Homo sapiens: one gene and its partner. The protein of the gene in region 1 binds, or shares a complex with, the protein of each later gene. Each region holds a gene or a part of one and is shown in the gene's direction. Other genes may lie near its edges.

Evidence for each region.
Region 2: the proteins of CCNA2 (region 1) and GMNC are in contact, whole or in part, in a cryo-EM structure (PDB 9HIU), measured with the Homo sapiens proteins. Residues at the interface, in NP_001228.2 of Homo sapiens: Met210, Ile213, Leu214, Asp216, Trp217, Glu220, Val221, Glu224, Arg250, Leu253, Gln254, Tyr280, Ile281, Thr282, Asp283, Thr285; in NP_001140158.1 of Homo sapiens: Asn165 (codon at 4,375), Ala166 (codon at 4,378), Lys167 (codon at 4,381), Arg168 (codon at 4,384), Asn169 (codon at 4,387), Leu170 (codon at 4,390), Ser171 (codon at 4,393), Glu173 (codon at 4,399), Phe174 (codon at 4,402), Ala175 (codon at 4,405).

What each region holds. Positions count from the first base shown.
Region 1 is NC_000004.12:121,819,995-121,828,123, reverse strand, and holds the start of CCNA2 (cyclin-A2), read left to right. Parts: upstream 1-4,240; 5' UTR 4,241-4,495; coding exon 4,496-4,708; intron 4,709-5,477; coding exon 5,478-5,721; intron 5,722-7,032; coding exon 7,033-7,145; intron 7,146-7,358; coding exon 7,359-7,582; intron 7,583-8,129. Other genes in the region: BBSome complex member BBS7, read left to right, coding at 2,131-2,264. UniProt on the Homo sapiens protein: Cyclin which controls both the G1/S and the G2/M transition phases of the cell cycle. Functions through the formation of specific serine/threonine protein kinase holoenzyme complexes with the cyclin-dependent protein kinases CDK1 or CDK2.
Region 2 is NC_000003.12:190,852,695-190,860,181, reverse strand, and holds the end of GMNC (geminin coiled-coil domain-containing protein 1), read left to right. Parts: intron 1-1,165; coding exon 1,166-1,254; intron 1,255-2,282; coding exon 2,283-2,399; intron 2,400-4,266; coding exon 4,267-4,887; 3' UTR 4,888-7,445; downstream 7,446-7,487. UniProt on the Homo sapiens protein: Regulator of DNA replication. Promotes initiation of chromosomal DNA replication by mediating TOPBP1- and CDK2-dependent recruitment of CDC45L onto replication origins.

The sequences.
Region 1 (8,129 bases):
CCTTGCCATATTTCTTTTCAACTGGCTATTTCCCAAGGATCATGTAAGAGAAGCTGGGCAGAAAGATAAAAAGATTACATCAGTCATGATTCATGAACCAGTCATGAATCAGTTGACAACAAATTTATTGCACAGAATATTTCTGTATTTTGTCAAGCTACTTTTAATATTTAATTCTTTTACTTGATAAAATGCAAGTATATTAAGAAATAAGTATACTGTGATGAATTAATCTATATATATGAACAAACCTGGTATAAAATGAATGTAATCTATGAACCTTTAGAGCTTAGACTGTATTTCACACAAATAATTGTCATGTTTTGTTGCTATTGTGAATTATAAAAATGCAGCATTTAAAATTTTTAAGGCAAAATTTAATAAAGGATATACAGTATTTGTGTTGTGTCAATTTATAGTTCAAAACTTTGGTGGTGAGAAGCTGAATGTTTCACAAATTGTATTGAAACAGAGTAAGGGAGGTGAGGAGAGGGAAAGAAGGAGTGAGGAAGGAAGAAACAGCTTAAGAAAAACAATTTTGTTAGCAATCTTTACATAAGACCTGTTGTATATAGCACACTATTTACACTGTCTTCATAATCAGGTGAGATATTTAATCCTTACAATAGCTCTGCAAGGTAGGTGGTATTATCTTCATTTTTCATATGCTTTAACTGAAATCTGAGTCTAAGGAATTTGTTGTCACCTAGCAAGTTAGTGATCATGCCTGCATTAGAATCTTCTCACCCCAAAATGCATGCCTTTTACACTATGCCAAGCCTTCCATAGTCACTGTAGAGCCAATTGGTATCACTAGTACACATGGATCCTTAAGCCTGCCTACTGAATTTTTTATTACATATCCAGAGACTTTCTCACAAACTGTAGCTATATTTAATGTCTTAACCTTTATTACATGACAAGCACATGATCTCTTTTATCCTTATAATAACTTATGAGATTGGCTGTACATAATATCACTGATTGCAAAATCCAGACAGCTTTGTAAACCAAAGTTTTTTTCATAAATAATTTGACAGCAAAATCTTGACTTAATCTGAATTAATTTAATAACAAAATCTGACTTAAACTGACATGAGGTTTTATATATATTTTTTGTTTGTTTGTTTGTTTGTTTTTTGAGACAGAGTCTCGCTTGGTCTCCCAGGCTGGAGTCAGTGGCGCGATCTCGGCTTACTGCAGCCTCTGCCCCCTGGGTTCAAGCAATTCTCCTGCCTCAGCCTCCTGAGTAGCTGCGATTACAGGTGTGCGCCACCATGCCCAGCTAATTTTTTTGTACTTTTAGTAGAGACAGGGTTTCACCATATTGGCCAGGCTGGTCTCCAACCCCTGACTTCGTGATCTGCCCACCTCAGCCTCCCAAAGTGCTGGGATTACAGGCATGAGCCACCGTGCCCAGCCCAAGGTTATATCTTTTTTATTCCACTTAGTGCAAATATTCATCCGTATATTTTGTGCCAGAAATAGTACTATGTTTTGCTATTGGATGCTGCTACTCAGTCCCCTTGGGGTTAATACCATAGTATATTCCTTTCATTATCTTCCTAAAATAGGAAAAATTCTGAAATACATCTTGCATCAAGCTTTTTGGATAAAGGATTGACAGCTTGAATTATTCCTGTTTTACATATGAGAAAACTCAAGGTGAAATGATTTGCCCAGATCTTTGAACCTAGGACTATTTGCCTTCAAGTCAAATCCCAAGAATGGTCAACATATAGGTGGAATATTTTAATTCAGATAAGCTGTTAAAAATAGAATCTGCCTAGACTATGTCAAAATGGTCAGCTTGGTGGAAAAAATATACCACTTGTTGTGATGTTATATATACTGATAGCAGTTCAAAAATGGCCAGTAGTTGATTGTCTGAATTAATAGCTTGTAATCAATTGTTAAGAGGGTTATTAGGCAGATGATTTATATCTTGAAACTTGTTTTAAAATCCCCCCAAAATGACTATTTTTAAAAACATGGCTTTTAGGTTTGTGTATGTTAAATCATGGAATTACAGGTGCTTAAAAATAGATTATCAAGCAATTACTTTAGTGAAATACTGTGTCATTAAATATAACTAATCACTGACAGGAAATTTATGTTTTTTCTTTAAAGGCATGATCACTGATCTTTTCATAGATAAATTTAAGTTTAAAGGCACCAATGTAAAAACTAAAGTACCCCTTCTATTGGAAATTCTGGACAGTTATGACCAAAATGCATTGATTTCATTCTTCGATGCAGCATGACATACAAATAAGGTAAAGTCCCAAAGAAGTGGTCTGTTTAAATGAAAAATGTTAAAAGAGAATTAGAAGTTAACTGTGTATGTACTTTAATTTCAAATGCTTTTTTATATCTAAAAATATTTGAGATATAATGGCTTTTTAAAGTAATGCTTCTATTTCTTTTGACAAATTGAACTTTCTAAAACTAAAAGAGTCTTTTTATTTTTAAAACACAAGTAGAATGATTTAAATAGGATTTTAATGAATTTTTGGCAAGTGGCTGTTTTAATTTTTAAATTGAGAAGTAATATGTGGAAAATTAAAATATATTCAAATGTATTACAAGGTACATAAACACATAAACATGTAGACCGCTTTATAGGCTTCAAAATGTATTTTTATATATTACCTTATTTGATCTTCACAACTGTTGTAAAATTTGTCAAATCATATAAGAAAACTGATTCTCAGTGAAATTTTGTGATTAAGAGGACATGCTAATATTTTGTAAAGCTGGGACCAGAACCCAAGTACTGGTACTTGCTTTGTGTCCTGGTTACTATGTATGTTGCCAGCTAGTGGAAATAACCTACCAATTGTTTTTTCTAGGAGATAGGATTGATTTGCAACTGATATTCCTTTTGCTTGGTAGTGTTTTATGACTCTGCTGCAGTTTGTGGAAATGCTGGACTTGGCTCAGTGCTATAAATTGTAGCCAGGAAATAAGAAGAGCTTACACAGAGTCGGGGGATCTTAATTAGACATGCTGTAACCAGTGGAGCTATTCAGCGTGCTTCAAGTGAAGAGTGCAGAAATAGTGATGCCATCTTAGATTTTCCTACACTAGTATCTTCTAGATCTCTTTTTATCATATATGACATTAAGGCTACAGAAGTTTTGTGCATTAATCTTAATTCATATTTATTAATTTCAAGGGAATATTGAAAGGTTTTAAAATGGCATACAGATAATGGAAAATAAGCTTTATGTTTCAAGAAGGGCAGACTCACGAATTTTTTAGAAAACAGTGCTTCTTAATGATATGCTATTATACTTATTAGTTATGTGCAAGCTTTGTATATTCTTATATTTATATATAAATATAAAAATTTGTTAAAGGCACGTATAGTTAAGAGAGTTTTATTTTAATAAGGTCATATTGTTTTTACTATGTTTAAAAAACTTTACTTCTGAAAGGAACATAATTATATCTAGGTCACTAGAACGTCATTGTGTTTTTTGTTGGTTGCCACAGCTTGGGGAAAAATAGAAAAAAATTAATGACTGTATTTGAATATTTTGTAATGCACTGCTATTTATTATATATATCAACAGTAGTTCAAGGTGCCATCTTAAATTAATTGCATCTTCATTAGGAAAAATAAAAAGCATAAAACACAATTTCTGGTTACTATGAATAAACGCCTAAATGTTAAGATGACATTACAGTCTTGACACTTGAGTACTGTATTACTATGTGAGCTCCGTGTTAAATAATTTATGCACATTATTTAATCCTAACAACCATATGACTGTAGTTATTAGTCCCTATTAACACATAAGAAAACGGAGAATCGGAGATACTGAAAAACGTGCCCCAGATTTTAGACCTTTGGAAAAAGTCACTTAAGCTAACTAGACGTCCCAGAGCTAAAGGCTGGGCAACCCAAATGATAGTCGCCAAAGTTTAATTCCGTTTAATTCCCTAAAAGGCTTAGAGTCAGCCTTCGGACAGCCTCGCTCACTAGGTGGCTCAGCTTAAAATAATCGGAAGCGTCGGGCCCTAAATCCTACCTCTCCCCGCCCCGCGCAGGCGTTTTCTCCCGCCCCAGCCAGTTTGTTTCTCCCTCCTGCCCCGCCCCTGCTCAGTTTCCTTTGGTTTACCCTTCACTCGCCTGCGACCCTGTCGCCTTGAATGACGTCAAGGCCGCGAGCGCTTTCATTGGTCCATTTCAATAGTCGCGGGATACTTGAACTGCAAGAACAGCCGCCGCTCCGGCGGGCTGCTCGCTGCATCTCTGGGCGTCTTTGGCTCGCCACGCTGGGCAGTGCCTGCCTGCGCCTTTCGCAACCTCCTCGGCCCTGCGTGGTCTCGAGCTGGGTGAGCGAGCGGGCGGGCTGGTAGGCTGGCCTGGGCTGCGACCGGCGGCTACGACTATTCTTTGGCCGGGTCGGTGCGAGTGGTCGGCTGGGCAGAGTGCACGCTGCTTGGCGCCGCAGGCTGATCCCGCCGTCCACTCCCGGGAGCAGTGATGTTGGGCAACTCTGCGCCGGGGCCTGCGACCCGCGAGGCGGGCTCGGCGCTGCTAGCATTGCAGCAGACGGCGCTCCAAGAGGACCAGGAGAATATCAACCCGGAAAAGGCAGCGCCCGTCCAACAACCGCGGACCCGGGCCGCGCTGGCGGTACTGAAGTCCGGGAACCCGCGGGGTCTAGCGCAGCAGCAGAGGCCGAAGACGAGACGGGTAAAGGGATGCGGGATATCTGCAGGAGGGTGGGTCGAGCAGGGTTTGGCATTGGCTTAGCAGGCAGAGAAGAGTGGCGAGAAGGCATGTCCTGGGCTTTTGGAAGGGGGCCAGGGTCTGGAGTGCAGTTGGTGCTGGTGTGTGGTTTGCCACAGTAGGAGTTCTCCCATATTAGCATCAGGACCCCGCCAACACTGTGTGTATGCTGCCGGTCTGCTCTCTATAGGGGGCATCTGCCTGTACATAATGGGGTCAAACCAAGCTCTAAAACGTGTAGTCTTCGCTCAGCTCCGCGCCTTTCTCTCCACTTTTAAACCCCAGGCACTGCTGTAGGACTCTGACCCCTATCCTCCTCACGCTTAAGAGATGACCTCTACTTTAGAAAAGCGTGTACAAAATACTTTGCTTTTGGCAAATTCCGCCATTTTAGCCGGATTTGCTCTGTTGCTCCACCCTCGGGCGACAGTGGTGAACCAACAATTTTTTTGCTGTCTTTCCTAAACTTGTCACGTATTGGCCTGTCACCCGACCCTTCTTGTGGCCCTGATAAGTTTTGCATAATTCCACCTAGTGTTATCTATTGATAGCCTTTGTGGGAATGCCTGTGACAAATGGGAACATCCCTTCTCTTTTGAATACTGAAACTCTTCTTTGTCCCAGAAAGTTTAATTCCTGATAGAGTATTTGGGAGAAAAAGCAAAGGCCAACACCCATAAGAGAAAGAATGCAAGACTAGTAGGCTCAAAGCCAGTTATTAATTTTTTTTTAGGTTGCACCCCTTAAGGATCTTCCTGTAAATGATGAGCATGTCACCGTTCCTCCTTGGAAAGCAAACAGTAAACAGCCTGCGTTCACCATTCATGTGGATGAAGCAGAAAAAGAAGCTCAGAAGAAGCCAGCTGAATCTCAAAAAATAGAGCGTGAAGATGCCCTGGCTTTTAATTCAGCCATTAGTTTACCTGGACCCAGAAAACCATTGGTCCCTCTTGATTATCCAATGGATGGTAGTTTTGGTAAGTTTTAAGGAAAATCTGTGTGGAATTACGGTAATTATAATTATTAGATGATATTAATGATTTGCATTTTAAGATGTCTTATGTAGTCATTTTGACTATAGTGAGTTAGGTTTAATGTAACAAGGCTTAGAAAGGATGTGACTTATCTCAGATCTCACAGCTAACACTTGACTTGGTGACATACAAAAAGATCCTTATCCAGTGCTCTTTCAGGTTCACTGCCAGTCACATCAATCTAATTATAATTAGATCTTAAATGCTTATTTTAATCTGATCCCATAAATGTGTTCTTGGTTGGGAGAATAGATTTCAGTTTTATTTAACTCACTTATATATCACTTAGTGCTATTTGAAGATGCAGTCTTAAATATTGTGATTACATAACGTCTCTTCCAGTTTTATAATTTTGTTTCTATAAAACCAGTCTGGATTAGCATCTGATACCAGAAAGTGACACTTTTCCTCCTACAAGTAAATAGTTGTACCATGGCTGTTTACTCTTACCCATGTATTAAAGTAGCTTCTGTAAACAGCTCTTTGCAGTTTGTACTATTTCTTTGCCCTAGGGATATTGAGTCACTGGACAGCTCACTAAATCCAATCTCATTTTAGTTTTAGTTGTATTGATTGTGAGGAAGGAGGGGTGAGCAGGAAAAGTCCTTTGGAAATAATAATTTGTGTGTTTTTATCAAAATTTTGCAGAAAATGTTTAATCTCAAGGTGATCTTTGAAGTGAAAGGAATAATGGATGATACTCTTTGCTTCAAAATAATTTATACTACAAAAAATAAATTATTTATAGTGTTAATCCATTTGCCCATAACAAACCTAATTTCTTAATAACACTTGTTAATAGAGGCCATTTAACTGATGCTAGCTATTGCCTACTTGTGCTTTATATATGTCAGACTCTGGGATCTGCAGTTTCTCTTGGGACAAATCTTAGATATTATCTCAAAACTTGGATTTTAAAAGTGTTCTGTCCTAACAGAACCACCATGCCATTTGCTCCTTTCTGTTGTGGAAGATGGATACTTTAAGATAATACCTGATTCTCATTTTCCTGTTAGGGGCCTACCAATATGTTTTTTTTTTTTTCCCTCATTAACTAAAATCATTCCAAAGTTCTATGTACAGAGATACTGAGACTAGGGTAAAATATTCTACATATTTTGTCATGAGAAGCTCTTTTTAGTTTGAAGAAATAAGTGCTTTGTTAATATGAGATTCCTTCCATGGCAGTCATTTTTAGCTATTAAACTAAATAGGCAAACAATTAATTTAATCATATCTTTTGAATTGTCCCAGAGTCACCACATACTATGGACATGTCAATTATATTAGAAGATGAAAAGCCAGTGAGTGTTAATGAAGTACCAGACTACCATGAGGATATTCACACATACCTTAGGGAAATGGAGGTAAAGGTTCTCTGAATCCAGTTTGTATAATGTATTTGTTAAATGTGGCTAAATGAAATTGAGAGGATAATGTTTAAATTTTTAAACTAATGAATTATTCTAATGCTACAGTTAAGTTTATAGCATGTAGCCTCTCGTAATTAATGGTAAAATAATCTAATTGCAGTTTTTACACTAGAATAATTTTAACACTATAAATAATTTTCTCAATAGGTTAAATGTAAACCTAAAGTGGGTTACATGAAGAAACAGCCAGACATCACTAACAGTATGAGAGCTATCCTCGTGGACTGGTTAGTTGAAGTAGGAGAAGAATATAAACTACAGAATGAGACCCTGCATTTGGCTGTGAACTACATTGATAGGTTCCTGTCTTCCATGTCAGTGCTGAGAGGAAAACTTCAGCTTGTGGGCACTGCTGCTATGCTGTTAGCCTCGTAAGTCTACCTTGGTTTGTTTAAAAGTGATCACGACCTTTTGTCTAGGGAAGAAATTGATTTTTTTAATGGTGACCTTTTAACATACACCAGGCAGAGTCAGTGACTACTTTAGGGATGGCAATGTGCTGGGGCTTAGGGCAGTGGAGGAGGATGAAACTGTTCTAATCTAGAACACTAATTTTCCCCCAACTGGATTCCTTGAACATGATATAGTACACTAGGTTACAAATTTTAAAACATTTTCCTTCCAATATTACTTTCTGGCATATAAGCAGTGTCTCTTTTATTAAGAAGTAAAGGCTGGGTGCGGTGGCTCGCGCCTGTAATCCCAGCACTTTGGGAGGCCGAGGTGGGCGGATCACTTGAGGTCAGGAGTTTGAGACCAGCCTGGCCATCATGGCGAAACCCTGTCTCTACTAAAAATACAAAAATTAGCTGGGCATGGTGATGCATGCCTGTAATCTCAGCTACTAGGGAGGCTGAGGCAAGAGAATCGCTTGAACCCAGGAGGTGGAAGTTGCAGCGAGCTAAGATTGCACCACTG
Region 2 (7,487 bases), on another chromosome or scaffold:
AGCATTGATGTAAAATGACATATTAATCTTGATCTGTGGCATACCAGCAGTATTTATAAATATTAAAGAAATGTCTGTGTTAAACACTCAAGTTTCTTAAAGAATTCTCAGACACCCCAGAATTAAATATCCATACTGTTGGTTCTGCTACATGATTTGTTTTATTTTTTAAAAAGACACAAACAAAGGAACCCCAAATATTAAAAGCACACTTAAATGTCAGGGAGGACATTGTTGAATATTAGCTTTCCACTACAAGCAACAGTAAAAACAAAATGCCCAAGAATGTGAACCCAAACTACTTATGCCATTTTATTCCTATCTCCTTACTCATCATTTCACTTTAATCAAAAATATTTCAGTATCAACAATATAACCAGAGAAGGACAAGAGTCTAAACTGTACTAGATGAAGAAAAGAAAGTAAAAGTAGACCTGGTTAGTATGCCCAACCATAGTTTTTTATTGATAGATAGAGCTGACTGTCAAATATGGGGGGAAAAGGCACTTTGAAAAAACATTTATAAAATATACAGATTAGGACAGTTGAAACAGATAAGGTCTGGGCACAGTTTTGAGATTTTCATTAAGATCTTCAAAGAAGCAAGGTCCAAATTGTTTTAAAGTAGAAAGTGCTACCACATAAAATTCCAAATAAATACAGTCCGTTAGATTAAAACAGGCAGGCAGACAGGCAGAGAAACTAGTAGCATTACAGACTAGAATTTAATTATAGAGCCAAACAGTACATTATCAAGTGCTAAAACTTAGAAAATAAGATAAAAACTAGAAAAACATAATGGAATTACAATGTTATGCCGAGTTTGGGGGAGATCAATAAGTATTTGCATAAATTAATGACAAAGACTGGACAGTCTTTAATTTATCCAGCAGGAATACATATATTAGGCAAGAATGTGACCCCTTACTGCTTAAAAAAATTTACCTTTTTAACTGCTATGTCATACAGCATATAAATATTTGTCTCTCACAGCTTGCTTGCCTTTTCTAAAAAACTTTAAATGTCTTGTTTTCCTGTATGGCAGCAATAGCTGTTTAAGAAAAATAATTGAACCTATTAAACTTTCTGATTTGATTTGATAAGTTTCTTTATTACACAGAAACTACAAGATTATTTTCTCAGTTATCTATTTGTATTTTCACAGAATCATTCAGTGACTCAAATTTTCCTCTTCCGGACTTGTGCTCATGGGAAGAGGCTCAGCTTTCCTCTCAGCTCTACAGAAATAAGCAGGTATGTGTAAGTCAGAACATTGAGACTGGTCATGTTCTATGTGGTCCATTCCCCACTGCTAATATCTTGCTTCTTTTCCCTTTTGAAATTCATGCTGACTCAGTTTAGAACCAAAGTGACTGGTGTGTCCAAAGAGAGATCAAAGTTAGATGATCAATGTCAGAGAAAAGAAAAACAAGCAAGACACTCTAGAAAGGCCTGCAGTCAAGCTCTCACTTTACACATTTTAGCCGTATGACCTTGAATCCTTTTCCTTGTCCTCATTTATGGAATTGTAAACCTTGTACTGCCTATCTCAGAGAGCGTTTGAAAAGATCGAATGATATAATGAGTGTGACAGTATTTTTAAACCATAAGCATAGCTAATACTTGGAGAAGACATAATGATTATAAAATATTTTCCTAAGATTGCTTTTTACATGTTGTGTCAGTTTTGCCCCTGAAGGATAATTTAATCTAGTGGACATACAGACAGATCAATCTGAGGCTGAAAGAAGCCAACCCACCTCTATTTTTATTTATTTATTTATTTAAACATGCAAGGGAGGAGTCCAGCAAAATCTTCCTAAACATCATTTTCTATATTTAATTTAACCTAGTGGACATACAGACAGGTCCATTTGAGGCTGAAAAAAGGCGACCCACCTCTATTTTTTATTTATTTATTTAGAAGTGCAAGGAAGGAGTCCAGCAACATCTTCCTAAACATCATTTTCTATATTTAAACAGTTGCATGCAGCTCATTTTCCTTCATATCTACCTGATTCGCTTGTGGTTACAATTTTAAAAGTCTATTATAATCTCTCCAAATGCTTTGCAATGAATGAACATTCAGAGCACAAAGCTGAACAACTAGGCATTAGGGGGATGTAGATTTAATTTAGGCCTCTCAGGATGAGGGCTCCCTGTGCTTGTGTTCATACAACAAACAATCATCAAGTTTAAGGCAGTTAAGGAGCAGTGGCATTATTATAAGGTTACAAAGTCAATATAGTGGAGCAGCCTTCACCACTGTCTGCTTTTTGTAGCTGCAAGATACCCTGGTGCAGAAGGAAGAAGAACTCGCCAGGTTACACGAAGAGAATAATCACCTCAGACAATACCTGAATTCTGCTTTGGTTAAATGTCTTGAAGAAAAGGCCAAGGTATGTATGATGTATGTATCTACTTTATAAGAACAAAGCAGTGATTTGAGAAAGGAAATGATTTATGTAAAACTCCTTGATTAAACAGTGTATCTTGATATGCATTTATAAGATGGATGGTTTTTCTTAAGGAAATAACGGCTCTTTCACAAGAATTTTTATCTATCATTTCTCTGAAGTACCTAGATTGCAGATGTCAGTCTTATGTTACAAAAGAAGTTGCTTAAAAATCAAATGCTAGTCGAGGGTGGGGGTTGCTGAGACAATCAGTGTTAATCAAAAGGCAGAATTAGATGGATGGAATGCTGGTACGGGAAGCAGATCTAAAAGACACTCAGTTCTTTTAATGATCTGTTTGACTTTAGGCAAATCATTCTTACTTAGATCCTCACTTAACTTCATCTGTAATGGATGGTCTAAAATATCTTTTAAAAATTCTGCTAGATCTAAAATGCTGTGAATATTGCCTGAGCCCAAATCTCTTGATTTGGCATTTACAAATTATATTAGGCAATTAGGCATACACAATTACATTATCATTTAATTCACATTTTTTCTCCACTTTTAAAATGAGCTATTTCTAACTCAAGGATAAATAACTTGCCAGTAGTCTTCTTTTGTTCATGCTCAATTCTTTGCCTTTCAATTTTTTATTATCTAGTTGCCATTATGTTATCATTAATGCTTTCATCATCAATCTTTTCCATACTTCTAGACAAGCTGCATTATTTGAAATTATTTGATCTAAATTGATGATGCTTCTTGCTACTCTTACTAAATAGAGCAGTTCAGAGAATAGAAGACACTAGATTTGATTTCTTTACAATTCAGTTGCCTTTGTTAAAAAGAGAATATTTTAAGAGAATAGGCCAGGCTATTTTCCTGGGCTCCTAACTCCAGCCACCATTCCATAAAAGGACACTTATTATATTACTAAGTGATAATAACTAGGCAGTTTTATCTGTCAGTCTTAATAATTTTCCAATATTTAGAATAATATAATAATATATCTCAGAAGTGCTTTGAAAGTTAATGAAATAAGAAGAAGCAGTGTTGTATAGTGTTTAATCAGAGGATCTGTGTAGATTTGGGTGGCTTAGGTTTATGTGCAAGCTACATCATTCTCAGCAAGTCATTAATATATCTGTGCTTTAGTTTCCTCATTAATGAAGATTTTAATAACATCTATATCCAATGAGATAATACATGTAATCAGTGCTTTATAAATTGTAGTAAATGATAGTTCATTTATAAATGATAAAGATATTATGTATAAATAATATTGTTTATAAATATATTTATATTTATTTATAAATATTTATTCATATAAATTTATGAATATTTACTTATATAAATTAATATTTATTAATATATTTATAAATATATAAATATTTATAAATATATCTATTTCTAAATATTTATAAATATATATTAATAAATATTTTTATTTATTTATAAATATTTATAAATAAATATAAGTATTATTTATAAATATTTATAAATAAATATAAGTATTATTTATAAATATTTATAAATAAATATAAGTATTATTTATAAATAAATGATAGTTTATTTACAAATGGTAACTTAATAAATGATAGTGCTATTATTGTTATAATAATAATAACTTGCCGGTGCTGAAATCTTAAAAATATCATCTGGTCCTTTCAACATTTAAAACAATTGAGTAAAAAATGTGATTTAGAGTTTTTAGGCAGTAACTTGTCATCACAGATTTTACTTTACAAACAAGCTAATCCAATCCATCTTACTTGTGTGAAGAGAAATTTAAGCATTTTTTCCGAAATAATTTAGTTAACTAGTAAATATATGAAAAAAGTATAACTTTCAAATATCACTTCCCTAGAAATTGCTCTCATCTGATGAGTTCTCCAAAGCATATGGAAAATTCAGGAAGGGGAAGAGAAAATCCAAAGAGCAAAGATACTCTCCTGCTGAGATTCCCCATCCCAAAAATGCCAAAAGAAACCTCTCTAGTGAATTTGCTAACTGTGAAGAACAAGCTGGGCCCCCTGTGGATCCCTGGGTCCTTCAAACACTTGGGTTAAAAGACCTTGACACTATCGATGACACCTCATCAGCTAACTACAGTGCCCTCGCATCTCATCCCAGAAGAGTCGCCAGCACATTTTCCCAGTTTCCGGATGATGCAGTTGATTATAAAAATATCCCCAGAGAGGATATGCCAATTGACTATAGAGGTGACAGAACAACCCCCTTGCACAGCACTGCCACTCATGGAGAAGATTTCCACATCCTTTCTCAACTTTCAAATCCCCCAGTGGGGCTGAAAACTCTTCCTTACTATACTGCTCATGTGTCACCCAACAAGACAGAGATGGCATTTTCCACATCCCTGAGCCCTCATTGTAATGTGAAAACTCATTCCTTCCACCAGGGACAAGCCTTTGTGCGTCGAGATGAGGAGGGAGGCTGGAAGTTTACCTGGGTCCCTAAGCAGTCTTAGTGACCCCTCTTTTATCACAAAGCACTGCCACGAACTCTGTTTACAAAGACCTCTCTTGCACTTGAATTTGACTATGTGGAACACAGAAGCTGTTGCTTAGACTGTCTCCTGCCACTTTAAATGTCACTCTCAATTACCCACTTAAATCTGCAGGGAATGGCTTCCAAGAATCCATAATGAAACGTGTCCGCGCTTCTTTTACCTAAATTTGACTTGTTTACACACCAATACCTGCTATTGACATCCTCTCTTTGCCCTATACTTGATAAGGTATTTTCCACTCACTTCTATATTCCTTTAAGACCTAGATACATTTTTCCAATTTTAACCAGTTTAACAGATTTTCCTCTTTTAAGTAGTTGAAATATTCACAGCCCTTTTACTTTTCTCCCTTTGTCATTTCTGAAAACTGTCTTTAGAATGAGCCCTATTTTTGCTTCAAGTACTTGCTACTGCATGTTCAAATAGCTGAGGGTGGGGTTGAAACAAGTGTCTTTGCCCATCACCACTACTCCTGAAGACATAATGTGGATGTGTGTAGCATTATGTTCATGGCAGTTCAAAAAGTTCAGTGCCCCATAGTGGCATTGACAAAGCCTCTTAAAACAACTGTAACTCCACTAATAATCAATATCACAGATAAACTTTAAAATTACAAAGAATTTAAATTATTTTTAAATGCCTCATGATGTATCAGCTTCTATATGTACCCAGCATCATTTCTTTAACCAACATGACTCCAAGAAGAACATTTTGAGGGACTGTGGTAACAAAACTAGTCATCATCTGCAACTACCCAGATGCTGACAAACTCCTATTGCTGAAAATAGACTAACCTAGCTCAGCCATTGTCTCATTCATTCATTCATTCGCGTATTCATTTTTTCATTGATCAGTCCACCCAAGAAATCTGTAGAATACCTAATGCCTACTTTGTACCAGGCACTATGCTATGTGATGGTGATAAAATACAAGCAATTTAGACACTGTGGCCACCATCATGAGACTTAGACCTACTCATCTGCTATGACTTTGCGAAAACGACTTCCCTTTTGTGAAGGTTCAGTTTCCCAACTGTAGAATACAGAAGTTGGACTAGATAATTACTAATATTCTATGAATTGAGGCTGGGTCCTATCAGATTTACTCCAACATGGCAGTTTCAGGTCACTGAAGAAACTAAAGAGAAGTCTTTAGATAGGCACTGCAAGTATTAGGTAGGGTAAACTTTATGTACAATTAATAAAATTCAAAAACATAAGTCATTTGAAGTTAACATTAGAAATCATTGCTCTGATCACAGTACTCTTTTTCTAGAGCCCATTTTGCAGTTAACTCGGCGTAACTGTGTAAGAATAATTTGCCTCTAAAAATAGATACATATTAATTTTTAAATAAGTGCGGATAGATTGCATATAAATATTGCTATCAAGGACTTCATATTTCTAAATTTGAAACAATATATTTTCAGTGCTTGTGCTAGTTTTCTTCTTTCCCATCTCTCAAGACCCCTATCATTCCCAGAATAATTTGCACATCCTGCATGTGCACCTATGTTTTTTGGACAAACTTCAATTAATGATGAAATCTTTCATGTTGAAACCTGTTCTCATTTTTCTCTTTTCCACATCTCAATAAGTCATCTTGCACAATCAATATCTCGTAGGTCAACTGTGTTGGTTAGGATTCTTTGTAACAGAGACATGCCTTTCATTGTTGTTTCTGTTTGGTTGTTGCTTTATTTTGGTGATGTAAGCAAAGGGTCTGTTTTATAAAGTTTTGTTGCCACCCACTTTTAAAAATAATTTATGAAGAAAATCCAATATAGTAATTAATATTACTCTCTGGAGTACTTTAAGAAGTAGAACACATTCCATTTTCTAAAAAATAAAATAAAATAAATAACTGTGCCTTTTACATTCTGGTATCTGGGCCCCTGGTCGGTGAAATTTGTCGCTTTTTAGAATAAGAGATTTAAGGATTCGAATTATTGTACTTTATGACACTAGGAATTGAGAAAGTAATATAACTAATTTTGAAAGTCTAATAATCAAGCTGTAAAAGGAAATGTATGAGTTAACAAATATTTATTTTGCATTCTTTGTGTGCCTTATCATGTGTTAAGTACCATGAGGGTACACCCAGGCTTAGCACAATGCATTTGGTATACAAAACCATGTAAAATGTCATAGCTTTTGATAGCTTTTAAATGAAACTTAATTTTGGCCCAGTTTAAAGATATTACCGAACATTTGGGATAAAATGTGATGGTTTCCTGGCTTCTATCATGGACGATGTTATGGAAGACAATTACCACGTTTTTGAAATCATGTCTATAAATATTTAATATCCATTTAAATTATGTATAGAAAATTATTTTGTTCATGTTTTAGAAATTAAACATTTCTTTCACCTGAGTATATGTTTTACTTGTATGGCTTCACCATGTCTCTCTGGTAAACCACAGTTAATATTTTAAGCTATAGTGGGAAATAAAAACTCTTTTGTGATTGCGGTAACTATTTTTATACCATGCTTAACATTCCCTAATAGCAGATTTTCTTCTCCTGGTTTGTAACCATAATCCTGTGTATTTGCTC